Regions from separate parts of the Homo sapiens genome. Here region 2 is linked to region 1. Evidence: fine-mapped expression QTL. A gene starts in region 1. The other region holds a variant in brackets. All regions are shown on one strand. Distances are between the middles of the regions.

Region 1 (15,645 bases):
CATCCTGGCTAACACGGTGAAACCCCGTCTCTACTAAAAATACAAAAAATTAGCCGGGCGCGGTGGCAGGCGCCTGTAGTCCCAGCTACTCGGCAGGCTGAGGCAGGAGAATGGCGTGAACCCGGGAGGCGGAGCTTGCAGTGAGCCGAGATTGCGCCACTGCACTCCAGCCTGGGCGACAAAGCAAGACTCTGTCTCCAAAAAAAAAAAAAAAAAAAAAAGATGCATTATGCTATGATCTTTACTTCTGTAATTCTTGAAATTTCCCATAGGTTATAAAATATTAAAGTTAGTATCTTTCCCCTCTCCTTGAACAATATAAGGGTTTTGGAGCACTTCACTCCAGTCTCTCACTCCTGATGCTTGTTCTATTATTGCTGGGTATTTTTGTTGCACTTGGCTCTTTTTTTGTTTTAATGACAAATTAAATAACATCATTATTATTAGTTTGGTGCAAAAGTAATTGTGGTTTTTGCCATTAAAGAGTTAAAACCGCAATTACTTTTGCACCAACCTAATATTTTAAGTATGTTGAGTCTCCCACACAAGTATGCCTTTCTTTGCTCACTAATCCTCTTTGCAACTCAGACCCTTCCTCTGCAATCACTTTCCATCTGCCTGAGGGACACACACACACACACACACACACACTTTGTGTAGTGCTCCCTCACCTCACAGCTTCCCCTGTACTGTGTCAGGTCCCAACTGACAGAGGAAACCTGACCTCCCCAGCCCAGCTGCACTCTGGCTATGCCAAGGTCTTGGGAGTCATGACACACCCGTGTGTGGGTGGGGTGCTGTTGCCAGGGAGTTCACAGCCCTCTGCACTTTCCCCGTGGTAAGCTGAATAATGACCCCAAAAGGCATATTAATTCCTACAACCTGTGGATCTGTTACCTGACATGGCCAAGGAGAACTGAGGTTCCAGGTGGAATTAAGGTTGCTAATTAAATGATGTTAGAATAGGGGCCTGGCGCAGTGGCTCACACATGTAATCCCAGCACTTTGGGAGGCCGAGGCAGGTGGATCACTTGAGGCCAGGAGTTTGAGACCAGCCTGGCCAACATGGCAAAACCCTGTCTCTACTAAAAATACAAAAATTAGCTGGGCATGGTGGCACGCACCTGTAATTCCAGCTACTCGGAAGGCTGAGGCAAGAGAATCGCTTGAATATGGGAGGCAGAGGTTGCAGTGAGCCGACATTGCACCACTGCACTCCAGCCTGGGTGATGGAGCGAGACTCTGTCTCAAAAACAAACAAAAAAAGATGTTAGAATTGGGAGATCATTCTGCACATTCTGCATTATCCCAGTGAACCCAGTGGGACCACCAGGGTCCTGGAAGGTGGAGGAGGGAGACAGAAGAAAGAACAAAGAGGTGCCACGTGGAAAGGACTCAGCTACCTGCTATCCCTGGGTTTTGAGAAGGGAAAGGCCACGAACCACAGGAATGGCAGGCAGCCTCCAGACGCTGGGAAAGGTAAGGAAACAGGTTCCCCGCCAAGAGCCTCCAGAGGGAATTCAGCCCAGTGAGACCCACTGTGGACTTCTGACATCTAGAGCGCTGAGAAAATCAGTGTGTTGTTTTCAGCCACTATATGGGTGGTAATTTGTTACAACCGCAACAGGAAGCGAACCTGCCCCCACCAAGTGTCATCGCCTGTTTACTTGTCTGTCTGCCCAATTCGAGTGTAAGCTCCATGAGGTCAGAAGTACGTCAGTCTTATTTGCCACTTATCCCCAGACCTTGATGGTAAATAAATGAATTTTAGAGATGGAAAGGGCCAAGAAATCACTTAGGCCAGCCCAATTATTTTAAACTGAAATTTAAAACTAAGATCCAGAGACAGGAACTGATTTTGCTCGAGGCTACTCAATTTATACAGAGCTTGGATCCTCCATCCGCTCCCTGGGGCCCACCTGCCTTCTGGTCACTAAGCCGTAGAAGCCTGAAGACAGACACAACTGTGGAGAGGCAGCTCCGAGCACACAAAATCCCTGGAGAACTCAGGACGGCTGGGAGAGGATCAGTGCAAATCAGATAAGACCAGAAGAAGATGGCTAAAATGACTTGAGCAATCTTTAAAATGTTAGTCCCGGCCCAGCGAGGTGGCTCACGCCTGTAATCCCAGCACTTTGGGAGGGTGAGGCGGGCGGACTGCTTGAGCCCAGGAGTTCTAGACCAACCTGAGCAACATGGCAAAACCCCATCTCTACTAAAAATATGAAAATTAGCCAGGCGTGGTGGTGCATGCCTGTAGTCCCAGCTACTCAGGAGGCTGAGACAGAAGAATCGCTTGAACCCAGGAGGCAGAGGTTGCAGTGAGCCAAGCTCGTGCCACTGCATTCCAGCCTGGGCGACAGAGCAAGACTGTCTCAAAAATAAAGTTAAATGTTAGTCCCAAGGGGCAGCTGATCCACCAGTAACAACCAGGGCAGAACTGTGCCCAGCACCTGATCAGCTGAATTCAGGAGACTCTCCACCTGAAGCTTCAGAATGGGGAAACAAGAAAAGGGGTACTAATGTCAAACTTGAGGCCCGCCTTCAAGAAGCTCAGCATTTCACACCTCGGCCAGAGCCAAAGCTTTGGGCTTTGAGCAAATTAGGAAAAGACACTTCTTCCACAAGGTATCTTTTTCCATCTGTCAGTGAAGTGTCATAATATACTGATTTCGTTAGAAGATACTTTACTCAAGGTCGGCCAGAAAATGATCACAGAGTTACTATGTCTATGAAGTAAAGGTGCCCCCTTAGATGGGAAGCGGTTGTGCAGTACACAACCTGCAGAACTGTACACAACCTGCAGAACCACACATAGCATTCTTTGCTTGGCAGTCTGGTCCCATCCTTTCCACAGCCCTCATATCCCCGCTTCCCCTCCCTCTGCCTAGAGCCCTCAGACCTGTTGGAGAACAGTCTCAATCTACAGGTTACCATTTTACATGTAACTCCTTCCTGTCAGCTTTTTACTTCCCTCCCCCTGCAGACAGCAGGGATTGACGACGGGTGAGAGAAGGCTGATGGCCCCATTTAGGGAAGCACAGGAGGAGGTGGGGAGGCCGGATGTAGTGAATTCCAAATGAATGAGTATCCACGGGCCAGGGGATGATCAAGGAGGTGTGAGGGTTAACAGTGCGGGCCTTGAAGAAATGCCACCTACCAGCTAGCTGTGAGCTGCTGGGCATGCTTTTAGCCTCCCAAAACCTCATTTTCCCTTTTGTGAAATGCTTATCATTGTAGGCCTGCTGGGAGGATTTCAGAAATGATATGAGTGAATGCTTAGTGCACGGTAAGGGCTCAGCACCTGTGAGCTACTGTTATTGCTATTATCAGCATCATCAGCCCAGGGACATCTGCCCTTCCGCCTGTCAGCCTCCAGGCAGCTCCTGCTTTAAACAAAATTGGGACACTCCAGATTTCTAAAAGAAAACCACATGGCAGGGAGGAGGGCAAGTGCTGGAGGGAGAAAGGATTACTCACTTTACCAAAGTACCCACTACTGGATAAACAGAAACACCCAGACTGCTTTTAAATGGGGTTGGTTTTGTTCAGGGGACATTGCTGACACGGACTGGAATGTGTCCTCTCCTGCCCCTGCCGCTGTGTGTTGCTGGCCAGTCTCCCGCACATCTGGACCCCAGAAGTCCCAAGAATGACCGGGTGCATCCAAGGAGGCACAAACCCAGGTTCGGGGAGTGAGAGAAAAATGGGTGCAAATCTCAGTCCTGCTGCTCCTGAGCTTCTCAGCCTTGGGCTCCATGCTGAGCTTTGCCCCCGTCTCCAACAGGTCACCAGCGCACCTGCCTTGCGGGGCAGGGTTGGGGGTGGGGGGCACATGGAATAGTGCATGTCAAGCACCTGGTGCTGATGGTGGTGGTATTATTACCAGCTGGGAGACTTTAGCCCAAGGCAGGGGGTGTGAGATGACACCACGGCACCCGTTTCCCATTCTCCGCATCCCCTTCCAGCCTTGTCCACACACAGAGAATTCTGACATGGTCGTCACCTCCACCTGGCCAGAATATGGTAGCCTACCTTTTCGACAGAATAACCAAATGTATTTTTTTTCACAGTATTACATGTTTCATTTAGAACAAGGGTGTCCAATGTTTTGGCTTCCCTGGACCGCAATGGAAGAACTGTCTTGGACCACACATAAAACACACTAATGACAGCTGAAGGGCTTAATTAAAAAAGGTCTGTGCATAATCTCATAATGTTTTAAGAAAGTTTACAAATTTGTATTGGGCCGCATTCAAAGCTGTCCTGGGCCACATGAGGCCACCTGGCCACAGGTTGGACAAGCTTGATTAAGAATGAAGTCAACTGCACGTATAAAAGGATACCTGGACGTGGTGTGGTGGCTCACGTCTGTAATCCCAGCACTTTGGGAGGCCAAGGCAGGTGGATCACCTGAGGTCAGGAGTTCAAGACCAGCCTGGCTAACATGGTGAAACCCTGTCTCTACTAAAAATACAAAAATTAGCTGGGCATCGTGGTGCATGCCTGTAATCCCAGCCACTCGGGAGGCTGGGGCACCAGAATCGCTTGAACCTGGGAGGTGGAGGTTGCAGTGAGCCGAGATCATGCCACTGCACTCCAGCCTGGGTGACAGAGTGAGACACTGTTTCAAATAAATAAATAAATAAAAGGATACCTGACTTGAAGTGGCTGAAATAATAGAGATGTTATAATTATCTCGTGTAACAAGTCACCAAGTCATCAACAAAAATATCACTAAGGTTTGTTTTTTGTTTTAACTTTTCTGGTAAGCCATCACCTTGCGCCAGCTTTGTGTCCTTAAGCCTTATCACCTCAGCTCTATAGCCTGAGCTGAAGAAGGTGAGGGCCCTGGTTCTTTATTTCTTCCCCCTTTTTATATAAGGAAGCAAACCCCTTCCCAGTATCCTCCCAGCAGACAGCAGATGTCCGCTGAGATCTCCAGGGTGAGAATGGGTCACCAGCCCTCCCCTTACCCAGTGGTGACTAGGGGAAATGGGATGTTTCTGCTTAAACCTGTCACAGTTATGCCCCGAGGCTGAGGGAAGGAATCAGAACAAAGTTAAGTCTGCAAGGAGGGGGAGTGGCTGCCATTTTACTCGACAAGAGCCCTTCACTGACCAAAAGCAGCATCTGGGGCCCAGAGAGGTTAAGCCCCTTGTCCACTACACGTGACTTTGCACCAGCGCCAGGGTGCAAACCCTGTCCCGAGGCCCAGTAAGCTCTCCCCACTTCACCATATGGCTTCTCCACAACAGCAGACCCTAAGCCCAAGCCCCCCAAAGGGCAGGAGCCCCATCCCAGGACTCTCTGAGCTTGACAGAGCCATGATGTGGACAAAGTCAGCCAGGAGAGGGCTCCTCGTGCCCAAATGCACCTCACCCACCTCCAGGCCCATGGCTGACGGAGCCAAAGCACCTCCTGTCCCTGGCAAAGTCCTGGCAGGGGGTCAGCGGGAACCCAGAACCTGACAAACAGCATCGCTATAGCCGCCTGGACCCCGGCCAAGCTGCCTCATTCCCCAGGGCTGACCTCATGTTTCTGAAGAGCCTCAGGAGCCTGAGGTCTGTGAGCTGCCTCACAGGGTTCAGTTCTGCTGCCAGCAAAGGAAATGGCCCGGGCTGGGGGCCATGTGGAGAGGTGGGAGCACAGAACCCAGGCACCCTCCCCACCACCCACCCCTGCCCTGCCAGAGCCCTCAGCCTGTGCCAGGCAGGCCCCACTGCCCCACTCCAGAAGAAACCAAGCAGCACCCTCTAACTTCTGAGGTGTAGCCCATGCCCACCTGTCTTCTCACCTCTGCCGGATACCTGAAGAAACGTTCACAGACTGGCTGTTTCCATCTGTTTCATTCCAGACTCCTGGAAAGTGAGCAAAAGGCAGTGAGACTTCATCAGAGGTGCTAAGAACATCTCTGAAATCGTGCCAACACCTCAAAGAGCTAGAGAGCTCACAGCCAGGCTGAGGCCTGTTGCTGGGTGACAAAAGTCACTGTTTATTTAACCCAGAGCTGGGCCAGGTGCCCACACTGGCCTTTCTATGGTCACTGAGAGCAAAGGCTCCCAGGGTACTGAGGCCCAGCGTGTGCTCCACGACAAAAGCCTTCATGCACTTGGCCTCCACTTCCCGACTTCCCTTCTGGGTCAAATGTCTACTCACCTCGTATAGCAGTCAAGGGGAGCAGCCTGGGGAAACAGCCCATGGCGGACCCCAAGACACACTCATTTCTCCACCTCCTTCTGGGGCATCTCCATCCCAGCTCCACTTCCCACATACCCAGGCTGCAGGTCCCAGCCAAGGTGTTTGTTCCTATTCTTATCCCTTAAAAGTTTTTATTCTCCCCGTACAACCACAAGGGCCGAAAACCATGTTGGGAGGCAAGAAGGCTTCCGCTTCTGTGCCATCGCCTCTCTGGCCTGACCAAGGGGGATCAGACACAGCAGCTGGCAATTTTAAACTTTTCCTGCCAAAGTTATTCTCAGAACTGTGGCTCCCCATCTTCAGAGCTTGAAAAGTCTGCATGTCTTGAAAGGATGCAGGCTGCAGGGCTGTGTGAACCGAGCGGAATTTTCCATTCATAGAATAATCATCTTCATACCACTCTGGGGGGCTGGCGTTCTCGTGGTAAAAGCTCCGAGTTCAGGGTCAGCAAACCTGCCAGGCGTCTGCAGGAGCCCTGCGGCATGGAGGTTCTTTTATTTATTTTTGGTGGAGAAGGGGAGGAAATAAAGGAATGACTTTCTACCTTGCATGCCAACACAAACTTGGAAAAGGATCTGGGTTGGCAAGTGCTGAATATTACTGCCTGGTTTCATGACTTACATCAACCATCGGGGGCTAGAAGGAAGAGGCCGAAACATGGATCTTTAACCCCTAACCCAGAGAGGCGGCCAGAACAGGCCTCACTTCACTGCTTCAGGTCCTTTCCCGCGCCTGCCAGCCAGAGCCCTGGATTGCTCTTTGAGGGCAGGGGCCCCAGCCAAGGCCATATCGCCTCACCTCACCTCACTTCTTTCCAGCTTCCCCTGTGTTGTGCCTTAGAGTTCTGCGGATGCATGCACAGACTTATTGTCTGAGATACCTTGCTGGTCCAGGGTGTAGTGAGAAGGCCACCCGGCCGGGAGTAACAGGACCAGAGTCTTAGTTCTGTCACATAGTCACTGTAGCCTTAAAGAAGTCCTGCTTGGCTGGGTGCGGTGGCTCACACCTATAATCCCAGCATTTTGGGAGGCCAAGGTAGGCAAATCACCTGAGGTCAGGAGTTTGAGACCAGCCAATACGGTGAAACCCCATCACTATTAAAAATACAAAAATTAGGTAGGCATGGTGGCACATGCCTCTAAACCCAGCTACTCAGGAGGCTGAGGCAGGAGAATCGCTTAAACTCAGGAGGCAGAGATTGCAGTGAGCCTAGATCGTGCCATCGCACTCCAGTCTGGGCGACAGAGTGAGACTCTGTCTCAAAAAAAAAAAAAGAAATCCTACTCTTCTCTAGGTCTCATTTTCTTCATCTGTAAGGATTGGACAGAACTGGGTGCAGTGGCTCACATTTGCAATCCCAGCACTTTGTGAGGCCAAGACAGGAGGATCACTTGAGGCCAGGAGTTCAAGACCAGCCTGGGCAACATAGCGAGACCCCCATCTATTAAAAAAGAAAAGAAAAAGGCAAGAAAAGATCGAACAGAATGATCCCAAAGATCCCTTCCCATGCTGACATTCTGATTCCCTCATTCATTCATTCTAATATTAACCAATGCCAGCACTAGGTTCTGGGCATCCCCTGCTGAGCCATTCTAAACCTGCTGGGCACAGCCAAGACCTGTGAGTGTGGCCTCAGGCCTAGTGAGGGCTCATTGTTTCCACAGCCACTGCATGGTCCAGAGTGAGGAAGGAAAGCCCCATCTGCCCCATGAAGCCCACCCTGCCAGGGCCCACCTGCCAGGGGAGGCATTTTCCTGATCCCAGTTCTAGGTTTCATCCTAGAAGAGCCCTCAGTATCTAAAGCCTTTCCTACTTTCAATTTTTAAAAAAGTTGGGAAGTGTAAGACCACCTGCCATCTTCCTAATCAAAACTCATCTTCTGGCTCTTATTCTCCATGGCTTTTACACAACATGTTTTATTCATTTCAAAGTATTTAATTATAATGTTGAGGCCAGGTGTGGTGGCTCATGTCTGTAATCCCAGCACTTTGGGAGGCCAAGGCAGGAAGATCGCTTGAGGCCAGGTGTTCAAGACCAGCCTAGGCAACATAGTGAGACCCTGTCTCAAGAAAAAAAAAAAAGAAAAAAGAAAAATCAAGAAGAAAAAAGAAAGAGTGAGAAAGAAAGAAAGAGGCCAGACGCGGTGGCTCACGCCTGTAACACCAACACTTTGGGAGGCCAAGGCAGGCGGATCGCGAGGTCTGGAGTTCAAGACAAGCCTGGCCAACATAGTGAAACCCCGTCTCTACTAAAATACAAAAAATTAGCCCGGCATGGTGGCGGGCATCTGTAATCCCAGCTGCTTGGAAGGCTGAGGCAGGAGAATTGCTTGAACCCGGGATGCGGAAAGAAAAGAAAAAAAAAGAAAGAAAAGGAAGGAGGGAAAGAAGGAAGGAAGGAAGGAAGGAAAGAAGGAAGGAAAGAAGGAAGGAAGGAAGGAAGGAAGGAAGGAAGGAAGGAAGGAAGGAAGGAAGGAAGGAAGACAAAATATAACATTGAATACACGTTGTTTTTCAAACTGCACATACAACCCACATTTTGACTCAGGCCTCTGGGGCGAGGGGGTACACACACACACACACATCCCAGTCACTGTCCTAGGCTCTCCAGCCATGAGATTTTCCGGCCCAGCCCCAACCCCGACCTAAGTAACCGGCTATCGGCCACCCATTGGCTGAAGTCCCTGAGCACCTGTTGGGAGGAAGGCTGCTGCGTGCAGCCGGAAAGTCCTGCGTCCCTCCGCTCTTACCGCGGCAGGAACCACAGCCTCCCCGAACCTCAGGGTTTGTATGGATTTCGCCCAGGGGAAAGCGCTCCAACGCGCGGTGCAAACGGAAGCCACTGGCTGGTTGGGCGGCTGTGATGGGAGAGCTGCATCCTTCCAACGCGTCCAGCTTTTCATGCTGATGTTGGTGAGAAGGGGGTGGATAGCGGGGATTCTCAGGATTAGGGCCTAGGGCCATTAAAGGCTGGGAGGTGGGGGCGTAAACCTGTGGCCACCCTGACCCCTGTCCTCGGGGGGCCTCACCACCAGGCCGAGGAGACCCAGGCCTGGTCACCTGCTCCAAGCCCAGGCCCGGCGCTCGAATGCGGGCCCCAGCGGCCCTCCCTTCCCGGCCCTTCTCTCCCCTACTTTCTCCTCACCTCCCAGCTGCGCGGAGAACACGCCCCCTCCCCGTGTTCCCACCAATCAGCGTCCGGAGCGGCGCCCGAGGCGCCGGGGGGCTCTGGTCTGCAGCCAATGAGCGCCACGGCTCGAGGCGGCGCCTCGCCCGCCCCCTCCCGGAATGAAGGCCGCCCGACAGCTGGCGAGGCTGGCGCAGCGCGCGGGGCGCGGGAGCCGCGCGGGCTGGAGCGGAGCGCGCACACAGCCAGCCCGCCTCCGCTCCGCCTCCGTCCGGGGCGCGGGCGAGGTGGCCGGGGCGGGGGAACGCAGGGGGCAGGGCCGCGGCGGCGAGGCCGGGGGGCGGGGAGGAGTGGGCCCGATAAAAGGCGGCGCGGCGGCCCCACCCCGCGGCAGGCCGGCGGGCAGGCTCGGCGTGTCCCTTCCGTCCGGCCCGCGCCGGCGGCGGGGAGGCGGCGCGCGGCCCGCAGCCCGCCCATGGAGGCTTTCCCCTGGGCGCCCCGCTCGCCCCGCCGCGGCCGCGCCCCCCCGCCCATGGCGCTCGTGCCCAGCGCCCGCTACGTGAGCGCCCCGGGCCCGGCGCACCCGCAGCCCTTCAGCTCCTGGAACGACTACCTGGGGCTCGCCACGCTCATCACCAAAGCGGTGGACGGCGAGCCGCGCTTCGGCTGCGCCCGCGGTGGGAACGGCGGCGGCGGCTCCCCGCCCTCCTCCTCCTCGTCGTCCTGCTGCTCCCCCCACACGGGGGCCGGGCCTGGGGCGCTGGGGCCGGCGCTGGGGCCGCCCGACTACGACGAGGACGACGACGACGACAGCGACGAGCCGGGGTCCCGGGGCCGCTACCTGGGGAGCGCGCTGGAATTGCGCGCGCTGGAGCTGTGCGCGGGCCCCGCCGAGGCCGGGCTGCTGGAGGAGCGCTTCGCCGAGCTGAGCCCGTTCGCGGGTCGTGCCGCCGCCGTGCTGCTGGGCTGCGCGCCCGCCGCCGCCGCCGCCGCCACCACCACCAGCGAGGCGACGCCGCGCGAGGAGCGGGCCCCGGCGTGGGCGGCCGAGCCCCGGCTGCACGCGGCCTCCGGGGCGGCGGCCGCCCGGCTGCTGAAGCCCGAGCTGCAGGTGTGCGTGTTCTGCCGGAACAACAAGGAGGCGATGGCGCTCTACACCACCCATATCCTCAAGGGCCCCGACGGGCGAGTGCTGTGTCCCGTGCTGCGCCGCTACACGTGTCCCCTGTGCGGCGCCAGCGGCGACAACGCGCACACCATCAAGTACTGCCCGCTCTCCAAAGTGCCGCCGCCGCCCGCCCGCCCGCCGCCCCGCAGCGCCAGGGACGGCCCGCCTGGCAAGAAGCTGCGCTGAAGGCCCGGGCTCCCGGCCGCCCAGGGTCGCCGCCGCCCCTCGCACCGCTAGGTCTGCGCACCATCTCGCCCCCGCCGTGGGGAGGCGTGCGGCTCAGCGGTCGGCTCGACATGGGACGTCGTCCTGGTGGTTTTTGAAAAGCAGCCGACCGTGTGGAGTACTTCCGTGCTGAACGATTGGGACTAGACGCTGAAATCCCCATTTGTCTTCAGTTTCTAGTTTGCACATCCAGAACGGCGAAGGCTGGGTGTGTATTCCACTAACTGAAATATGGCAACTTAGAGGCGCTGTTTATTTACTGTATACGTCGACCTATTTTAGATGCGCATCAGTATGAAATTGTCTCAATCTTGGATGTTTCATTTTATGAATGGAGGCACTTTACTAGGTCTAGAATATTTTTTTAAAAGCCTCTGAACTGAGCTTAAAACTGGCGATTTTATGAAATGTCGGCAAAATGACTATTTTATTGTTTGAAGCGAGTTAATATTCTCAGTTGTCTTTAAAAATCAGTTACTCTAATTCCAGGTGAAGCAAGCCGCTGGTAGCATCACCCTTATGAGAAGTGAAGGTTTTGTAAACTTTCCAGTATTAATTTGGGCGGGTATTCCCCGCTTGTGGCTTGTTTCTGTCCTAGCTGGAGGTGTAAAATGCACAATGTGTAGCAGGTAGAATACAGCTCCTTATCGTTCTATGTACCAGGTATTTTATTACTGAACTAGCAACTAGCCTTTTCCACCTTTAAAAGTTGTGCCAAGTCATAATCATATTGTGTATAACTTGGAAATGGTGCTGTTTAAAAAAATTGTGTATTTATACAGTAACAGTATGAATTCATTAATCTCACCTGTAACTTTCCTACTTGGCATTTTCTCTACACACTCACCCTCTTCCAGTTCTTTAAAAACGTTTATGATATTAAGATCAAAGGGAGGAAGGGAAGACAGCAGTATTAATTCACCCTAGATTACTCAATTTCAGGGTTCCTAGTGGAGGAAAGCCCATTCCAGCTGTTGCCTGTCAAACAAATAGAAGATGGATCTCTAGCTCTGAGCTATTCGTGTATTAACTCGTATTCAAGAAGGTTCCACCGTGGGCTGCGTCTGACTTTAATACAGGCAGTGCTCAAACTAGAATAAGCACTAATTAAAGGAATTGTTGGGGGTCCTTCATGTGTTCCCACTCCTACTGGAAGACCCATGTCGGTTTCCGGAACCCCACCAGTTTACCCATAAGCAAGACTAAACCTGATCCTTGGGCAAAAGTTCCTAACCCCTACTTTACCCTCCCACCCTCACTTTTAAATCCACCATACTGAATGCCACACTATGGAATGCAGCTACCTGCCAAGCAAGGCAATAGAAGGCAAAAAATGGAAGTGAATTAAGATGAACTCATCTGAAATACACAAATGCATTACTATCTGAAGATACCAGCAAGAGTTTAGTCTACGTGTATAAGGCTCCCAGTAGGATTTAGCTAGGCTACTAGAAGTTAGACTGCTTTCGCATTAAACAGCTAACTTCATCCACAGCAAATTGACTCAATCAGGAACCTTCATTTGAAGGTGTGTTAGAGGATGGGGTAAATACCCGATAGCTGTCTTTTTGGTGAAAGAAAAGGTGCATTTCAAGAACTTGGGGGGCAGGAGGAAAGCACAATGTTTCTTAGCCAGGAAAGACAAATAATCCAACGCTGCTAGTCTTAACCCCAGACCAGAGAGAACTGCAGATCTGACTGGGCCTAAATTAAGTAGCTTAATGAAACCATGTAATTACTTGTTCTCCTTTCTTTTGCTATAGAAAATCTACCAGTTTAAATGAGCTTCACCTTCTGGGTGAAGTTTCTAAGGTCAACATGAATCCTCTTACCTCTCTCACTGCTCGTGTTCTGCCTTTTCAAAAGGACCACTATGAACAGATCAGCGCATTCTCTAGGCCAAAAGGGCTAGCCAGGTGGCAAGATCAATTTAGCTACTTTGTATTTTCAGAGTCAAATTACAGACGGTTTCCAAAGGTCTTGAGCATGGGGCTTTGGCATAGCCTCAATATATGGGAGTCACTGTGATGAGATGTGCCTAATGTTAATTTGATATTCTGACATTGCTATTTTACCAGAACTAAGAACATATTGAGCTGGAGCTTCTTGAGGGCAGGAGAGTATTGGAAAAGGAATCCAGAAGACCCTCTCCACTACTCAGGCAGCCACTATTCATCTATTTTTAAAGTACCCCATTTTCAGGCCGGGTGTGGTGGCTCATGCCTGTAATCCCAGCACTTTGGGAGGCGAGGCGGGGGTGGATCACAAGGTCAGGAGACCAGCCTGGCCAACATGGCGAAGCCCCGTCTCTACTAAAAATACAAAAATTAGCCGGGTGGTGTGGTGGGCGCCTGTAATCCCAGCTCCTCAGGAGGCTGAGGCAGGAGAATTGCTTGAAACCAGGAGGCGGAGGTTGCAGTGAGCCCAGATCACGCCACTGCACTCCAGCCTGAGCAACAGAGCGACTCTGTCTCCAAAAAAGAAAAAAAGTACCCCATGTTCAGCCCCTGTGCCAAATTTGCCTAGGTTTTCCAGCTGACAATGAATACTGGGAGTTAAAACGCAGAGTATTACTATAGTTAATTTTCTAGGGTTCTCTTATGAAAAGTATATGTAAACACATTCATTTAAAAATCCTTGGAACTCAATGTGGAACTTTAAACATTTTGCAAAATTACATTTAGAGAAACCCAATTTTTCAAAGTTTAAGAAATATACAAAGTATGACAAAATTATCTTCATAAGAACATGCTGCATACTTGCCTAGTAGCAAAACAATACAGGGAAGAGTCAAAAGGGCTTCTCCAACTGTAGAGGTACAGATTGTCTTAACCTGTTCTTTTCTGTACAGACTTAAAATTTCTAGTGGCTTTTATTTTTCTTTGTATTTTAATTTTCCTACAAAGTCCTTTTTGGAAGTTGCAGAATTATTAGCTTTGATGAGAACAACTTTTGTCATAGATTTGATTTATTAAACCAAAATTATACATATTAAAATTATATCACAAATATATATGCTTCCAGACAAAGAAAAGTTTGTTAGTCCTGATTTTCTAATCGTAGCCACTCAAGGAACAGTCCTTTCATAGTACCCCAAGTATTTCAATTAGACTTATAAAAGTATAAGTCAATCTATGGTCAGTGTCTTTGGTTAAAAAAAAAAAAAAACACAGGCAGTTCTTTACATAAAAACGTCCCACACGTTATAGATGCCAGCCACCTCCTGGTAGTCACTATGGACAACTAATGAGATGCAAAGTCTTTTGGACCGATGATGTCTCTACTACTGGATCTATCTGTATTAACAGCAATGTTACTCTCAATGAAACTGCAGAAGCCACCATGAACATGGAAGACCACCTAGCAGATCGGTGAGTAGGCTGCTTGTTCAGCTTTCCTTTAACACCTGTTGGTAAATACTAATGGGAGTAGACAGAGTTGTATGGCCTGGACAGTGGAAACCAAGAGCAGGATCGCAAAGTAACAGCATCAGACTCTTCTGCCCTCCTCTTGCACTTGGGTTCTGACTCCCAGAACAAAGAACTTGGGAGAACAGTACGGGAGACTGAGCAGAAAGGATGGGTTTGCTGACTCGCCTTGAAATCTAACTCTAACGTAGGCAGCAGTAACTCGTCTGAACAAATCTGATTAAATAAATTCTTGGGGCTTACCTGTGATGTCACACATACAGATCTACTCTCCAGGAAGCAAACTCTTAGCAAGTTACTGCCCCACTTGTAATCACTGATCTGAAATTCTCTTGTTATGAAAGAAAAGTCCTTCTCCCCACGAAAGACCTTTAAAGACTTCTACGTATTTGAAATACCAGATACTAAGGTGTTTAAAATGATTTCTATCATTGGTAACATCAAACAAAAATAGCTGCATCTGGTTAAGTTAAAAAGCATCAATACTCCCTCTTCTGGCCCTACAGCTGTACCAATAGGAATTCTCACCACTACTCAATAACAGAAATAAGTGCCTACAGCCATGATGAATTTGTAACATTTTCTCAAATTAACTACGATTTTTCTAATTTCAGGTGAAAACCCAAGGTGGTACTTCAAACACGCACATGCACACACAAACTCAGAGGACAGCGTTACAAGGAAACTAAGGAATTCCTGCATTAACAAAGGAAGACATGTTAGGGGGACATCCTAGCCACATATGCTTTCTTTGTTATATTTAGGTTCATTTTCATTGATACTAAACACAGACATTTAATGGCACTGATAAAAATTCAAGTAAAAAAAACTCAACTGAATATGCAAACTTACCATTATAAACAAAATACTATAACCACAAATCAACACTAAAACAAATTCTGTAAGTATTTTATTTATCACTGAAGAAAAAACACAGCAGCAAGTTCTGTGTTGGCTTCAATGAGACCAAATAGTTCATCTTTAACATAGCTACTGCGCTCCAAAATTGAAGTCAACACAGTCATTACTACAAATTACTTGTTGAAAGAATCTATCTTCAAAAGAAAGAAAATTAGGAAAGAGAATTTAAACGATTCCTCCAAACCATACATTTATAAATATTGTCATATTTAAAATGCTTGAAAGGCATGAATTCTCCATTAATGGAAAAGCAGTTTGCTATTGGCAACAGAAAAAAACTCAGCGATAATTTACCAAATGCTTTAAAATTTAAAAGCTATACTGTTTGGATTCACACTTGCGCAGTAATCTTGTCATTACAACAACTGCAAATTGCTTTGTACTCACCTTCTCTCAAGTAAAATCTAAAGAAAACCCCACCGTATCCAATGTTTGTAATGTTTACTTCAAGTGAATCTAAAAAATTTCTAAATTTAGTTTATGGTAAATACCTCAAAATACCTAAAATAGGTACGTATCAACCACTTAAGGGTGTGAAAATTGTTTCAGATTCACTGCTTTAAAGGGTCTTCAAAT
Region 2 (15,645 bases), 76 kb before region 1:
GATTAAAGGTGATGGCTCCAGGAACAGGCAACCCCCAGCCCCAGGCCCCAGGAGCCCAGCTGAGCTCAAGCACCTGGGAAGGTGTGATGGAAGCTCCTCTGCAGATCAGATTTGGCCCTGGAGGACCTGGAAGCAGAGGGAGATGAGAGCCTGAATGGGCAGCTCCACCTCCCTGGGGCTTTCCCAACCCCTCCTCTCCAGGCAGTCCCCAGGCTGCCTACAGGAATCTCACCAGTTGCCTTAAATTAGGTGACATCTCCCAGACAGGCGCAATGCCTACTGTCTTGCCTTCCATACCAAATGCCTTGATCAACCTGTCATTTAATAATCAAAATCACAAGACTGTGCAGTCTGACAGTGTTATCCAGGATCAGAGCCCCCTGAAACCTATAAGAATGTCTGGCTTTTGGTGGGGGACCATATTCATGAACAGTCATGCTGTGTTACTCAGTGCTGTGTTCATGCAATGTTAGTTCCCCCTAAAAGAGGCATGGGAGGGTTCTTATGGCCGAATATATTTGTAAAAGACTCCAGTGGCCAGGCATGGTGGCTCACCTTGTAATCCCAGCATTTTGGGAGACCAAGGTGGGCGGATCACCTGAGGTCTGGAGTTTGAGATCAGCCTGACCAACATGGAGAAACCCTATCTCTACTAAAAATCCAAAATTAGCCAGGTGTGGTAGTGCATGCCTGTAATACCAGCTACTCAAGAGGCTGAGGCAGGAGAATTGCTTGAACCCGGGAGGTGGAGGTTGCAGTGAGCCGAGATCGTGCCATTGCACTCCAGCCTGGGCAACAAGAGCGGAAACTCCGTCTCAAAAAAAAAAAAAAAAAAAAAAAAAAACAAAGACTCCATGTTCTCTCTCCATTTAGGAAATTCACACTGTATACTAACATAATAAAGGCTATGAAAAGTCCCACAGCAAAGATAACATTCATACTTGAATATTTTCCCAACTTATGTAACCAGGAACCCTTTTTTCATAGAGCATCTATTAACTTCTTTTAGAACACATCCAATTAGAAATGCGATCCTAGATGCTTGAAAAACACCTTATTTTGTCCCCTAATCAGATAAATTTCATATCTGTTGGGATCTGAAATTTTTATGTCCGTCATTATTACTACATTTGGAATTACCACTTCATTTCAGAGTAAATTTCCTTCTGACTGAAAAACGCATAGTTTATTCGACAGCAGGGCCAGGGAAGACCTGGAAACATTGCATCACCTTCTTTTCTGATTATATCCTTGTGGCATGGGGAATGTTATTTGCATTTGAACTGTATCTCCTGTTTCAGCTGGAAGTGATACAAAGTTCCAATCACTAGCTCACTCATTTGTGCGCCATACCCTTATTAAATCTCTACCACATGCCAGGACTGTGCTAGCCACTTTACACGTAGTATTTCAAGCCCTCACAGTCCTGAAAGGAACTGTTATTATACCCATTGCACAGGAAGGAAACTCAGGTCAGCTAAGACTGAGTTACTAATCCAAGAGCACACAGGGATCAGGGCAGTGGTTGCATGGCTCACACGGCTTCCCTCCAGGGGCCTGCGCTCTCCCTCCCTCTCCACTGTCACAGGGCTCTCAACTATTGCCTGACCTGCATCTTTGACGCTGCATGGGTTTCAATCTGGTGTCCCTAATTGGAATCAAATATTTCTGACTCTGGAAATAAATACTGTTAAACAGTGGCTTGTGCACAGAATAAATAAATGTCTGTTGCTAAGGAGACATCGGGAAGATGAAAGAGCAGGAGGAGGATTCCAGCCTCTCAGAGGCCCCAGGACTTGGTTCCACCTGAACTAAGGCAGGGGCTGGGCAGGTGAAGAACTGAGCAAAGTACCCAGGGAAAGGGGGCAGCTGCCTTTCCACCCGACATGATTGCAGGCCCGTGGGCCAGATGCGTTGTTCAAGAGAAGTTAGGAATCTCTATTTTTTGTGAAATCCACCAAGTTGTAACCACCGGCAACTGTAGTGGGTTGAACTGTGTCCTCCAAAAATTCACGTCCACTTGGAAACTAGGAAAGTGACCTTATTTGGAAATAGAGTCTTTGATAAGCTAATTAAGGTAAGGATCGAGATGAGATCAATGCATGCACAAGCCAAGGACCCCGAGGATGCCAGCAGCCACCACAAGTCAGGAGAGAGGCATGGGGTGATCTCTCGGAGCCTCCAGAAGGAACCAGCCCTGCTGGAATCAGAAGGAATCCACACCTTCCTTTCAGATTCTTGGATGTCTAGCCTCCAGAACTATGAGAGAATACATTTCTGTTGTTTCAAGCCATCTGGCTTATGGTAATTTGTTACAACAACCCCAGGAAAGTAATAGAGCAATGAACTTTAATTTTTAGTAATACCACTTGAGCCAGCAAAATCAACCTGTGAGGCAGATTAGGCCTGCCAGTCATCCTCACCCCGGTTAGAGTCAAAGGACACTCAATGCCATGTCATCATTATCTCATCATTATTTTCTCCAAAAATGATGCTGCTGCCTCTCCAACAACTCTACGTAGACTGAACCTCTCCTGAGTCCCAGAGCCATATTTCCACATTCTCTGGACATCTTCATTTGCAGGACCTGCAGGCAACTCCAACTTAAGGTATCCAAAATCCAGCTGCATTCTTTATTGTGTGAAATCGCCACCACTTTGGACCACTGGTGTGCTGGAGCGGGTTGTGCTGGCTCCCAAGAGTCGACTATAAAATACTCAGGAATTTTCCCTGCTGGTTGCTAAACTGTTGGTCCCTTGAAACCTGCCATGGTGGCAATATTTGTGCCACAAAAAATTGGCAAACACTACAATCAGGGGCTCCGTTTTTGGGGAAAGCCAGTTCACCAGCAAACCACCAAAACTTCCACCCCATCTTCCAGGTGAGAAAGCCCACTTCTATTTTATTTCACACTTTCTCATTATACTTCACACCCAGCCAGCAAATCCCATTAATTCTCTCTCTGCAAATCGTTACCTGTGTCAACTTCTCTCTGCTTTCACTGCCCTGCTCCTCCTAATTCGGGTCTCGTCACTCTTGTGTTTGAATTACTACAACGGTTTCATAATTTTCACCCTACCCCCAATTATATTCCTCAAACAGGGAGTTAGATTATATTGGTTCTCTCCTCAAGCATTTTTAGCATCCAAACATCTTTGCCTGGCAATCAGAGCAATGATAGTTAGGCTTCTTTCCATTGCAACTGGCAAGAACCCAATTCACCAAGCTGAATCAAAAAGGGAACCCGCTAATTCATAGAAGCCCAAGGGGAATGAGACTGCAGGTAAAGCTGGATCAGGTCTCTGGCTTGTTCCCCATTACTTGGCTCATCGTCTTTTTGCCTGGTTTCATTCTCTGGTATGTTCTCTCCCTGTGAGAGGCAAAATGGTCAGCAGCTGCCCTTGAATCACATCCTCCTAGCTCAGTGTAGTGTGACAGAGTAAACTGCCTTCATCTTCCCACTCTTTCAGCCCTCCTAAAGTCATGCCTTGTCTATGCGACTTTGCAGTTCCTCTTACTGAGGACATGGAGTCTGTTTCCTCATTCCTTGAGTCTGAGTTTGGTCATGTGACTTGCTTTGGCCAATGGGATGTTAGCAAGAGAGCCTTGAAAAAGCACTTGTGAGGGCCGGGCGCGGTGGCTCACGCCTGTAATCCCAGCACTCTGGGAAGCCAAGGCGGGCGGATCACGAGGTCAGGAGATCAAGACCATCCTGGCTAACACGGTGAAACCTCGTCTCTACTAAAAATACAAAAAATTAGCCAGGCGTGGTTGCCGGCGCCTGCGGTCCCAGCTACTTGGGAGGCTGAGGCAGGAGAATGGCGTGAACCTGGGAGGCGGAGCTTGCAGTGAGCTGAGATCGCGCCACTGCACTCCAGCCTGGGTGAAAGAGCGAGACTCCGTCTCAAAAAAAAAAAAAAAAGAAAGAAAGAAAGAAAGAAAAGAAAAAGCACTTGTGCATTTTCACTTGCTCCATCAGGACATGCTGGGCTAGCCCAGTGAGGATGGTGCACGTGGGGCTGCACTGAGCTATTCCAGCCAAACCAGCCACAGCCAGCGCAGATCAGCAGACATGCAGCCAATGTTCAGCCATGTGAGTGAGCCCAGCCAAGCCCCACCAAGCCACACAGACTTGGGAGCTAAATAAATGTTCATTGTTGTACGTAACTGAGGTTTTGCGGTTGCTCATTACACAGCATTATTGTGGCAGTAAATAACTGATACATTTAGTGAAGTCATTGGAAAGAGAATTTCTCTCCTTATCTATATAGCAATCTCAGGGAGCACCGACTAGCTCTGCGTGCACCCCATGCCCAGACCCTGAATAAGAGGATCACAAGGTTTGGTTGAACATGCTGGGTCCCAGGAGTGTGGGTCACCATGATTGACAACCTCACAAGAACTGTATGAGGCTGGGCACAGTGGCTCACACCTGTAATCCCAGCACTTTGGGAGGCCAAGGCGGGTGGATCACCTAAGGTCAGGAGTTCGAGACCAGCCTCGCCAACATGGTGAAACCCCATCTTTACTAAAAATACAAAAATCAGCTGGGCGTGGTGGTGGGCGCCTATAATCCCAGCTGCTCCGGGGGCTGAGGCAGGAGAATCACTTGAACCTGGGAGGCAGTGAGCCGAGATCACACCACTGCACTCCATCCTTCTCTCTTATCTGCCTCTCTGCCTTATCCCTGGATCTCCCTCCGTAAGCATATTGGATTCCCTCTTTCTAACTACTTGTCATTTCCCAAACCTACCACCCGCTTTTGTATCTCTTTACCTTTGTACAACTGCTCCTCCCACCTGGAAGGACTTCCCCCTCCCTCCCTCTGCAAATCCAGCTCTAATCCTTCCTTGAGGAAGGACTCCAGTCCCAAAGACAGAGAAGACAAGGGGTTAGCAGAGAACACAGAGCCAAACCAGCAGCCAAAGAACAGGGCCCAGGGCACAGGGCAAGGCTGTGCAAGGGGTCACTGTAGTCCATGCAGAAATCTAGGACCTGGATCCGGAGCAGTGACAAGAGCTAAGACCTGAGGGCAAGTCCAAGGATTCGCAGCCCCCTGCCAGGATCAGCTCAGGGGTGGAGCAGAGGCTGCAGGGGTGCAGACAAGCCAAGGCAGAGAAGGCAGGAGTGACAGGGGTGGCAGCTGGCAAGGAGAGGCACTCCTGGCATCGAGCTCACATTGGATAAAGGCTTGGAGGCAGGATCAGAATCTGAGGGATTTAAAGCAACAGAGAAATAATAAGGACACAACTTTTCAAGCCTTTAGGGCATGCCAAGTACTGCGCTAAGAAATTAATTACATTATCTCTGTAATTCTCACAACCACCTTATGAGGCAAAATACAACCAACATCCACATTATACAGGGGAGGAAACAGGCACAAATAGGTGGCATGGCTCCCCAGAGTCACTCAGCTGGAATGCAAGTCCAGGCCTCCTCGGCTCCAGAGCCCATTCTTTTTTTTTTTTTTTTTTTTTTTTTTTGAGGCAGAGTCTCTCTGTCACCCAGGCCGGAGTGCAGCGGCGCGATCTCGGCTCACTGCAACCTCTGCCTCCCAGGTTCAAGTGATTCTCCTGTCTCAGCCTCCCAAGTAACTGGAATTACAGGCATGTGCCACCACGCCCAGCTAATTTTTGTATTTTTAGTAGAGACGGGTTTTTGCCACGTTGGCCAGGCTGGTCTGGAACTCCTGACCTCAGGTGATCTGCCCGCCTCAGCCTCCCAAAGTGCTGGGATTATAGGCGTGAGCTACCGTGCCAGGCCCAGAGTCCATTCTTAATCATTCTGCTTTCTTGCTCAGGATGGGGTTGAACTTCCCCACTCCTCTGATTTTCTGATTTTAACTGAAGGGAAGCTTCTGCTAAGTCCAACTCCAGACAGGCCAACATATCAGCCTCCAGGCAGCTTTTCTAATGTTAACTAATCTGATCAAATTCACAGACACCTCAAAGGTCAGCTGAGAATCCCCTTCCTCGAAGAAGACATCCCAGACTCCCCAGATGAAATTCATCTCTTCTTTCTTTCTGTTCCCACGGCATTTTGTCTCCGCCTCTGCTCAGCCCTTGGCTCTGTCTGCTGGTTTTAAGACGACATCTGTGCACAACTCTCCCAACTGGCAAAGCCATCCTTGAGGACTGACCATCCTTTGGGTCCCCCAAGACACTTGACCCACGGCCCCGAATGCTAAATTCCCACATGTTGAATTGAATGTGTGTCTCAGTATTTACCTAGCTCCATCAACCTGAATCCAATAAAGTTGTCTAATGAATGCATCTTCTGCCAATTACCAGATTTCTGTGAGTTGTGTTGCAGTAGAGATTACAACAGTAAGGTTGCCCTCAGCCAGGGTCAAGGTTCACAGAACCCCACCTTTTTGGCTCTGGATTGCACATCACATCACACAGATAAGCCTCAGGCCTTTCCTCTGGCCCACAGCCCAAAGGAACTGGGGATGGGGAGTTCTTTCCTTGAAGGAGGTCCAGTGGGGGAAAAAAAAAAAAAAAAAAAAAAAAACAGAAACAAAAGCTTTCCCCCATGCAGTGGCCATGCCAAGTGGGTGTTTGGCCATTTCCAAGTGAGCAACTTTTTTGAATTTGATTTTGTGGGTGCTTTCAGCAAATTAGAGCCACAGTTACGCTGTGACTTAACAGGATTAGTCATGCACACACATCCTGTGCACACACTTCAGTCCCCTATTAAAGGAAGCACAAGCCAGAGGCTGGCAGGAGAGGTTAGAGAATTACCTCCCATCTCCTCAGACCCTTCAGGCACAGTGTGGCAGAGTAAATACAGGGCTCAGGCACATCAGAATTCCAGATAATCGATGGCTAACTTCAGTATAAGTGTATCCCATGTAAAATTTGGCACATACTTACACTAAAAAATATTCAAATTTAATCGGGCATCCTGTATTTTGTATTTGATAAATTTGGTCATGCTACTCAGGCAGGATCTTAAATGCTGAAGTCCAGGACCCCTGAGCTGCTTCCAGGGAAAGTCCTCATCAATGACAGAAGCAAGATGAGAGAAACCATAATATGGGAATCATCTGGGCTATATGGGGCTCACACATGAATGTCCAAACACATGGCATAAAAAGCCTGATCAGGTGCTCAATGCAATTTACACAAAACACTTTTTGAGGGTATAGTAGCTTAGATAAAGCCCATTAGCATCCTTAAATTAATTCTTCACTCGGCATAATAACACATCCTCTCTCCCTTACTTGTTTTTCCCAGGGGAAATATTTGATCACTTCCGTCAGTCACCTGCTTGAATGCCCCGTATACCAACTGTGTGACAGTTATTGATTTTTGATGAATGATACAGCTCTCTCTTCTGGGCTATGACTGCTTTGTTTTCAAACCTTACTTAATTGTGCGATGATTTTGGGGGGTTTTTTTCCCCTTTCCAGAGAAATAAATGCAAAGTGTTTATTCTCCAAAGGCCGTAAACAGAGCTTGCGGGTCTGGTTTCTATGACAACCCCACTTGATACAGCAAACCTAGATTATCTCTAATGACAGACATGAAGTTTAAATTGCACATTCTGAACAAACACTGCTCTGCTGACCTTTTATTGAAAAATGGAATACAGGGTGATTAGCATAATGTGTTATATAAAAAGGAAAAACGTGTATTCGTGGGCATTATGCACCAGCGATTAGCCGCACTGCTAGTCTTTAACAAACTGCTTGCCGGGATGGAGAGCTTGGGAAATTAAGATTTGCCATCTATCATTTTCAAATTCAGTAAAATCTGCAGCAGTAATTGCACTAAACAGTTTTCAAATAACACATGCTGCTGTTTCTCTTATTCAATTGAGTCTTTTAGCAGGGGAGCACAGAAGGAGAGGAAAATTTTACCCATTGTACAAAAAATAATAATCGTTGGCTCCAATAGCTAGTCTGAAACAATCTCTGTTTCTTAATCCCCTAATGCAATTCCTGGAGGAAGCCTAGGGCCTGGTGTAGCCTGGCAGCTACCTCCTGGAAACTGCTCATTAGCAGTGTGGTGCAGTGGGGGTCCTGGGTGGTTAACCAGAGGTGGGGGCTAAGCGTGGTCCACCCGCAGGTTAACTGGGCCTGCTCTTAGCAACCACAAAATGAAGGGTTGGAGAGTTTGGGCTCTGAAGTAAATGACCTGGTTCAAATCCTAGCCTTTCCTCTAGCCTCCCTATGGGCAAATTACCTAGCCCCTCCAAGACCCAGGTCCCTTGTCTACACTATGGGAATGAGAGTAATAGGTCCCACTTCACAGGATCATTGCAAAGATGGAAGGAAGCAATACCCAAGAGCGGGCAGGGCCAGCCCCCAATGACCATTAGCCACTCATTGCTCAGAGTTCAAGTTCTGTCTTCTATTTCCATGAGAGTGTGTTCATATCAGGACTTCGCCGACTGGTACTTTTGAGCACTAATGAGATAATATGGAATGATGGAAAAGAGCATTTGCTTATTCCTTCAACCACATTTACTGAGCACTGGCTCTGCAGGAATGCAACCCTGAATAGGACAAGGTCAGTCAGGAGCCGCCACCAATGCTCTTAGCTGTGTTACTTTGCACTTGTCATTTCATCTCTACGAAGAAATAATATTTACCATTTGATTCTCATAACAACCCTGGGTGAAGGAGGTCATTTTACACATGGGAAAACTGAGGCTTGGAGTCACGAAGAGGTGGCCGAGTGGGGTGCACTGGAGTTTGTCATGGTACCTTTGAGTGGTCAGAATGCCTTGTCACAGATGCTGTCACTTGACCCCCAGCCTAACAGGGCAGGTCACAGACTGGCCCAAGTGTCCTTGGCTGCCCTGCAGGTGGGGATGGTCTCAATGTCCAGACACCACCCTCAGGGTCTCAGCCTCACCTTGAACCTCTGTCCTGGGTGCTCCCAGACATTCTTGTGTCTCCCATGGGCTTAGGCACAATCTGTCACCTTTCTCCACCCTGGCCTCCTCACTGCAGCCCACAAGCCACTCGGGTGACAGGCTTCACCTGCCCCTCGTCATAGTGCTCAAGATGTCATCTCTCAATGTGCCCAGTGCACAGAACCTGCCAGGCACCAGCCAGCCCTTGCTCTCTTGGCCCCTCTGAATCCAGGCTCCAATGGCATAGGGGCCCTCTCAGTCGGGGTCACACATGGTCCCCCTGCAAGCAGATGCCTAAGCCCTAAATCTCACAGTGTTTCACCAAAGCAGCTACTTCTGTTTCCTGCTTCTAGAAGGGCTCAAAACCAGCTGTTCCATCCAAGGGCTGGGGGAGACAGACAGCATAATCCCTCCCCAGTGTACATCTCTGCCCCAGGCACACCTCAAAAGAAGCCTTGTTTCTCTTCCTTCCACAAAACAGAAAATATCCTTCATGCATAATTTTTTTTTAATTTCCTACCTCAAAGCCAAATGGCCCTTGAGCTGCAGGGCTATGTGGCTGCACTATTGTTATCCCCATTTCTCAGAGGAGATGTGAGGCTCAGGAGGTCACGTGGCTGCTCAAGGTCACACTAGACTAATAAAGGGTACAGCCAAGGCCTGAACTTACCTGAGCTGACCCCAAACCCAAATCCAGTGTTCTCTTCTCAGCCTGTCCTTCGATGCCGATATGAACTAAAGTGACTGAATTCCATCAGAGGTTTGAAT[T/C]GCACAAACCTCCAATCTTTCAGGGTCATCAACCACAGTTATTGTAATAGGCTGTGCTTCTTCTAAAAGCACAGAGTCTTACTCACTCTGACAATTGCTTATCCTTGGAGCATAACTGCAAACAAGACCTAAATCTGCAAATTGTGTCACTTCCAGAGCAGCCACAGGTCAGCAGATGACCTGACAAACAGGCTGTCACAAATGGCTTCCAAGGTGGGCCAGGGCTAGTGTCATGGGCCCTGATCCCTGTCCCTTAACTGTGAGCCCTCCACTGGTGTCACCTGAAGTGCCCCCGCCCACACCATCCCTTTGTTTATTAGAGACATCCATCTCCTCCCAGCAAGTGAGAGGCCACTAGCTACCCTCCTAGGTTAACTCCATTATTCCCAGCTCCTTGAGCAAACCCTCTTCATCACTGAGAAAACACAAACTTTTGCTAGGAAGTTGGGGTGAGACCACATCTGGCTTTGGGTCAGGTTTTCCAATTAGTAGCCAGATGTGCACAGCTCAAGCCCCAACCAGCTGCACTTGAAACACACCAGTTCTGTTAAAGGGCAGACAGTGCAGCCCATTCTCCCCATCATGGGAGAAGGATAGAGCTGCGATTCAGAGTCCCTCATTGCCAAGAAGCCACAGCCAGCCTTCCTGGAAAGTGACAGAGAACACAAGGCTAGTGTTTGCTCCAACATCTGGCAGCAGATGTAAGTGGAGCCCTGTTTCTGAGAAGAGCAAGAACCGGGGAGGAGAGAGAGAATGTTGGCTGCTCCCTTCCTAGGGAGGACAAAACTCATCCACATCCCAGCATTCCAAATAGAGTATGGACAGAGAAAAACACTTCACAGAGAAACCTGGCAGGCGCCCCTGAACCAGGTGAGCCCCTGGTTAACATCACTAGTGATAAGGCATGTTGATATCTTGTACCCCTGTGATACGATGCACTGAAGACATTTCCCCTCTGTGAGCTTCTTCCCCAAATCCAATCCTCAGTCTACATATCAGAAAACATCAGCCGGGCACAGTGGCTCACGCCTGTAATCCTAGCACTTTGGGAGGCCGAGGCAGGCAGATCATGAGATCAAGAGATCGAGACCATCCTGGACAACATGGTGAAACCCCATCTCTACTAAAAATACAAAAATCAGCTGGGTGTGGTGGCACGCACCTGTAGTCCCAACTACTCAGGAGGCTGAGGCAGGAGAATCGCTTGAACCCGGGAGGCAGAGGTTGCAGTGAGCCGAGATCACACCACTGCACTCCAGCCTGGCGACAACGCCATCTCAAAAAAAAAAAAAGAAAAAGAAAACATTAGGTCAACTCAAACTGAGAAACATTCTATTCAACACCTGACTGCTCCTCTTCAGAAGTATCCAGGTAATGAAAGGCAAGGAAAGATGGAGAAACTATCACAGATCAGACGAAACTAAGAAACAAGGGCCAGATGTTGTAGCTCACACCTGTAGTCCCAACACGTTGGGAGGCTGAGATGGAAGAATTGCTTGAGGCCAGGATGTTGAGGCTGCAGTGAGCGAAGATGACACCTCTGCACTCCCAGCATCTCAAAAAAAAAAAAAAAAAAAAAGAAAGGAAGGAAAGAAGCTAAGGAGCCATGACAACTAAAAGCAATGTGGGATCCTAGATTAGCAGATTAGCTCCTGGAACAGAAATGGACATTAGTGGTGAAAACTAGAGAAATCTGCATCAAGTCTGTAGTCAGTTAATAGTAATGATATACCGATGATCATTTCTGAGTTTTGATGAATGCAGCATGCTATGTAAGATGGTAACATGAGACTGGGTGGGGGTGGATAGGAACTCTCTGCATAATCTTTGAAACTCTTGGGGAAATCTAAAATTATTTCAAAATTAAAAGTTGTAAAACAAACCCCAAAAACGAAGCAAATGCTTTTTTCCCCCTTAATTTTTAAAAACGCCTTGCCTTCTCATAACAGAGCATCAGGGCAGGCATCTGACAGCCTGGGCTCCACAAGAAAGCCCTCTGCACCTTTCCCTTCCCTCTGCCTGTGGCTTGTGCCTTCCTATCTCGATTGTCCTATGCTCCTTTGGCACTTGTCAGTCCAACCTGCCCATCCTCATCAGCTGCTTTCACCTCCCATGCCCTCTTCCACAGGCGACAAAGCCCATCTTTCAGGAAGAGACAATGCCCCCTTCTCAGACTCCAGGGTTCAGTTCTTAGGAGCTGATCCCATCCCCCATGGTGGGCAGGTCCAGGACCTCACTTGGCCAGTCAGCCCACTACCTCTGCAGCCTGGCTTTTGGGATTGGTTCAGAGATGGGTCCTTTACTCAGGACTTTGAGAGTGAGGACCGGAACTTGTGCTAAAATTACTGGAAAAGAGGCATAGTCTTTCTGTTGGGGTTGCTAAGCAGGTGGAAAATAAACCTGGGACTGGGGTAGGGGGCACCAGGTGAAGAACACCCCCTCTGTCTGAGAGTGAAGCCAGCCACAAGGAAAGCAGAGCTGGGTGACGGAAAGAGATGCAATGACTTTGCTTGAGCCCCTAGGATCCAGCTGTGCCTCAAGCTGGCACCCTCATCAGAACTTTTCTGTTGCATAAACTGGTATTTCCCTTTTTGGTTTAAACCAAAACTCCAGCTGAGTTTCTGTTGCTCACAACCTCCAATGTTAAGCCTCCCCTGGTGGCAAACTGTGAGTCTCTCCTCCTTCACCAGCTCCCACTCCTTTCTTCCCCAGGCCCTGGGACCAACTCTGCCTGAAGCAGGAGGGAAGAACAGGCTCCAGCCAGCCTCCTGGGGTCTGACCCCAAGATAAGGCTGTAAGTGCCAGGAGTTTATTTGGGAGCTACTCCCAGGAAGCATAGCTGAGGCAAAGAGGCAGGAAGGCTGTGTTCCAGAGCAGGTTATTGCCTGGCAAGAGGGGCCCAAGCCTGCTGGGGACCTCCAGGAGATGGCACAGACCACTCATCAGTTACCCTCCTGAAGGGAAGAAACCTGGGGGTAAGGGCATGTGGTGGGGGTGGGGGGTTATACACCAAATTTCATCCATCCTGGGTTGAGGGCTGCTCCTGGAGTCATTGTTCATCTGTTAATGTCTCAGAGCACATGCCCAACAGAGCAGCAGGTGCTTCCAAGAAAAGGACTCACCTGCGTACAATGGAAAGGTGAGTGCACAGGTGAGATGGCCAGGGACCAACAGCTGCTGCGACATCTGTGGACCGTATCAAGGACCCTGGGCTCCTGGTTTCCTGCTTGGTTCTCTAGCCTCTGGGGAGTCCCTCTGGTTCCCCTCCCCAATTCCCAGGCCTGTGCTCTGCCTTCCCATCAACACCCTGGATCTGCTGTGACAGTCACTTGGGACCATGCCCTGTGGACATGGGCACACATTGTTCATATGGACTCCCTGTTCCAGCAGCTCAGGCCCCACCCCCAGCTGGAAACTCCAGTTCCAGGGTGGCCCCTCCAGGTGTCAGTGGAAAAGGCATCTGACAGCAGCATGGTGACTTCCTCTGAAGCCCGACTGCTCATACCCACCTGAAGCCGCACAGCACAGATCATAAAAACCAGGATGGTGCAGGCACACAGACCCTGGGGTTAAACCCCAACTCACCCCTGGCTTGCTGGGCCATTTAACCTGGGAGAATGATAGACCCCAGTGCTCAGGACTGCAGTAAGGTTCCATGAGATGGTGTCTGTGACTCAGCCAGCATGCAGTAGACACTCACTGGACACAGTGGCATCGCTGCCAGATCTTGGAAAGTAGAGAAAGCCCCTGGGATGGTTACAGTAACTCCCAACCCAGAGCCACCTGCTACGGATGGGTTTTTGTTATGGTTCAAATTATGTCTCCCAAAAAGATACATCTTAACCTCCACTACCTTGAAATATGATCTTATTTGAAAATAAGGACGTTGCAGATGAAATGAGGTTAAGACGAGGTCACACTGGAGTAGGGTGGGCCCCTAATCCAATATGACTGGTGTCTTTATAAGAAGAGAAGACACACAAAGACAGACACACAGAGACAAGACAGCCCGGTGAAGACAGAGGCAGAGATTGTGTGATGCCGCCACACACCAAGGAACACTCAGGACTGCCCACAGCCGCCAGAAGCTGGAAGAGCAGGAAGGATCCTCCCCTGCAGGGTTCAGAGGGGGCACGGCCCTGCAGACACCTTGATTTTGGACTTGTAGCCCTTGGAACTGTGAGACAATCAAGTTCTGCTGTTTTAAGCCACCCAGTTTGGAGTACTTGGTTGATATTAGCTCTAGGACACTAAGACAGATTTTCACTGATCTCTTTCCAGGTTTCCAAAGGTAGATTTAACCATTTGAATGGAAACCATGCGCCAGCCACTTTTGTGGGGGGTTTCCCAAAGTGTGTTCTGGAACTGCAGGATGTCGACGGTTGTTGATGGTTGACCTGGAAAAATATGTGAAAAGGGGTTCTGTGGTCGACACGATTTGGATGTGTGTCCAAGCCCAAATCTCATGTCAAATTATAATCCCCAGTGTTGGAGGTGGGGCCAGGTGGGAGGTGACTGGATCACAGGAGCGGATTTCTCATGAATGGTTTAGCGCCATCCCGTCAGTGCAGGTCTCATGATGGTGAGTGCTTACAAGGTCTGATTGTTCAAAGGGGTGCATGACCTCCCCTCTCTCTCTCTTGCTCGTGCTCCCGCCACGTAAGACGCCTGCTCCCATTTTGTCTTTCGCCATGAGTAAAAGCTCCCTGAGGCCCTCCCAGAAGTAGATGCCACCACACTTCCTATACATGCCTGCAGAATCATGAGCCAATTAAGCCTCTTTTCTTGGCGGGGCATGGTGGCTCACGCTTGATATCCCAGCACTTTAGGAGGCTGAGGCGGGTGGATCACCTGAGGTCAGGAGTTCAAGACCAGCCTGGCCAACATGGCAAAACATCGTCTCTACTAAAAATACTAAAATTAGCCGGGCATGGTGGTGCACACCTGTAATCCCAGCTACTCGAGAGGTTGAGGCGCAAGAATCGCTTAAACCCAGGAGGCGGAGGTTGCAGTTAGCTGAGATCACACCACTACACTCCAGCCTGAGAGACACGGTGAGACTCCTTCTAAAAAAAAAAAACAAAAAACTCTTTTCTTATAAATGACCTAGTCTCAGGTATGTATTTGTAGCAATTCGAGAACAGACTAATACAGTGGTCAAGTAATCAGGGAACAGTTGAACAGTTTCTTGCACGACTTCTCAGGGCCTTTAACATGCTAGTGTGTCTTGTGAATACCCATGAGCGGATACAGGAATGGTTGTCCTACTTCTATTTTTTTGTTTTTTTAGTTTTGATTTTTTATTTTGTCCTAAATTTATGTAACCACAGAAGCCTCTTCTCAGAGCCTCTGGTGGGATTTGCCTCTGTAGAGTGGAGCTGGGAAAATCCTGCAAGAGCGAGTCCAGTGGTAACAGAGGAAAAGGCCCATGTTCAGGGAGTTTGGAGCTCCCCATATGGAAGATGCATTTGCCTCCCTGTGGGATAACCTCAGGGCCACTTTAGGTTCATGGGGCTGCAAGCTGGTGCTCTACAGATCTGCAGCAAGAGTGTGACTTCCAGTCCTGTGTTGCACTGAATTCCAGGGACCGCGTGTGTCCCCGTTCCCCTCCCCAGCCACCCCCCACCACCCCCCATACACATAGTTGGCATTTAACCTTGCCAAATATCTTTGGTATGGCAATAGAATGATCTGGCTCCTAAAGAAAGAAGTCAGAGTTCAAAATGCTGAGTCATTCACCACGAGAGCAGTGCCTGAGGAGAAGTAGGTCAGCCTGGGCCGAGCCTCCCCACCCCTCCTTGGCATCAAAAGCACCCAGCACAGTAAAGGCAGCTCACACATGGCCGGGGCTGTTCTACAGGCTCTATCTGTATCCACTCTTTAAAGCCTCATGACAATGCTACAAGGGGTAACTGTGAGTCTCCTGAAATTCCAGATAGGAAACTGAGGCACAAGGAAGGGAGGAGGGATGGACCCCCAGCAACCCGGCCACATCCCTAACCAGAAACAAAG

Direction of the effects. Positions count from the first base shown, and alleles are read on the strand shown. Sizes are in standard deviations (SD) of each study's normalised expression.
As copies of T replace C in region 2, the expression in adrenal gland of the gene that starts at base 9,572 in region 1 goes up (moderate effect, 0.52 SD a copy in GTEx).

What was found. PIP is the estimated chance that this variant, and not a neighbour inherited with it, causes the effect.
Region 2: its variant is fine-mapped to the expression of LINC03036 in adrenal gland (GTEx, PIP 0.94).

The regions. Positions count from the first base shown.
Region 1 is chr10:119,020,000-119,035,644 of GRCh38, forward strand. It overlaps LINC03036 (long intergenic non-protein coding RNA 3036), which reads right to left and starts at 9,572. Exons shown (of 4, transcript NR_186540.1): 1 at 9,346-9,572; 2 at 5,798-5,861. It overlaps NANOS1 (nanos C2HC-type zinc finger 1), which reads left to right and starts at 9,715. Exons shown (of 1, transcript NM_199461.4): 1 at 9,715-13,731. The coding sequence starts at 9,803. The coding sequence ends at 10,681. It overlaps EIF3A (eukaryotic translation initiation factor 3 subunit A), which reads right to left. Exons shown (of 22, transcript NM_003750.4): 22 at 13,671-15,645. RefSeq lists enhancers at 2,308-2,950, 2,951-3,593, 4,779-5,352, 8,992-9,492 and silencers at 9,317-9,786, 9,907-10,116, 10,487-10,786.
Region 2 is chr10:118,943,904-118,959,548 of GRCh38, forward strand. All of the region lies in intron 2 of LINC03036 (long intergenic non-protein coding RNA 3036), which reads right to left. Among named protein-coding and RNA genes, the nearest start is that of LINC03036, 78 kb to the right of the region's middle. RefSeq lists an enhancer at 15,042-15,645. The variant T/C (reference allele first, on the strand shown) is at 9,634.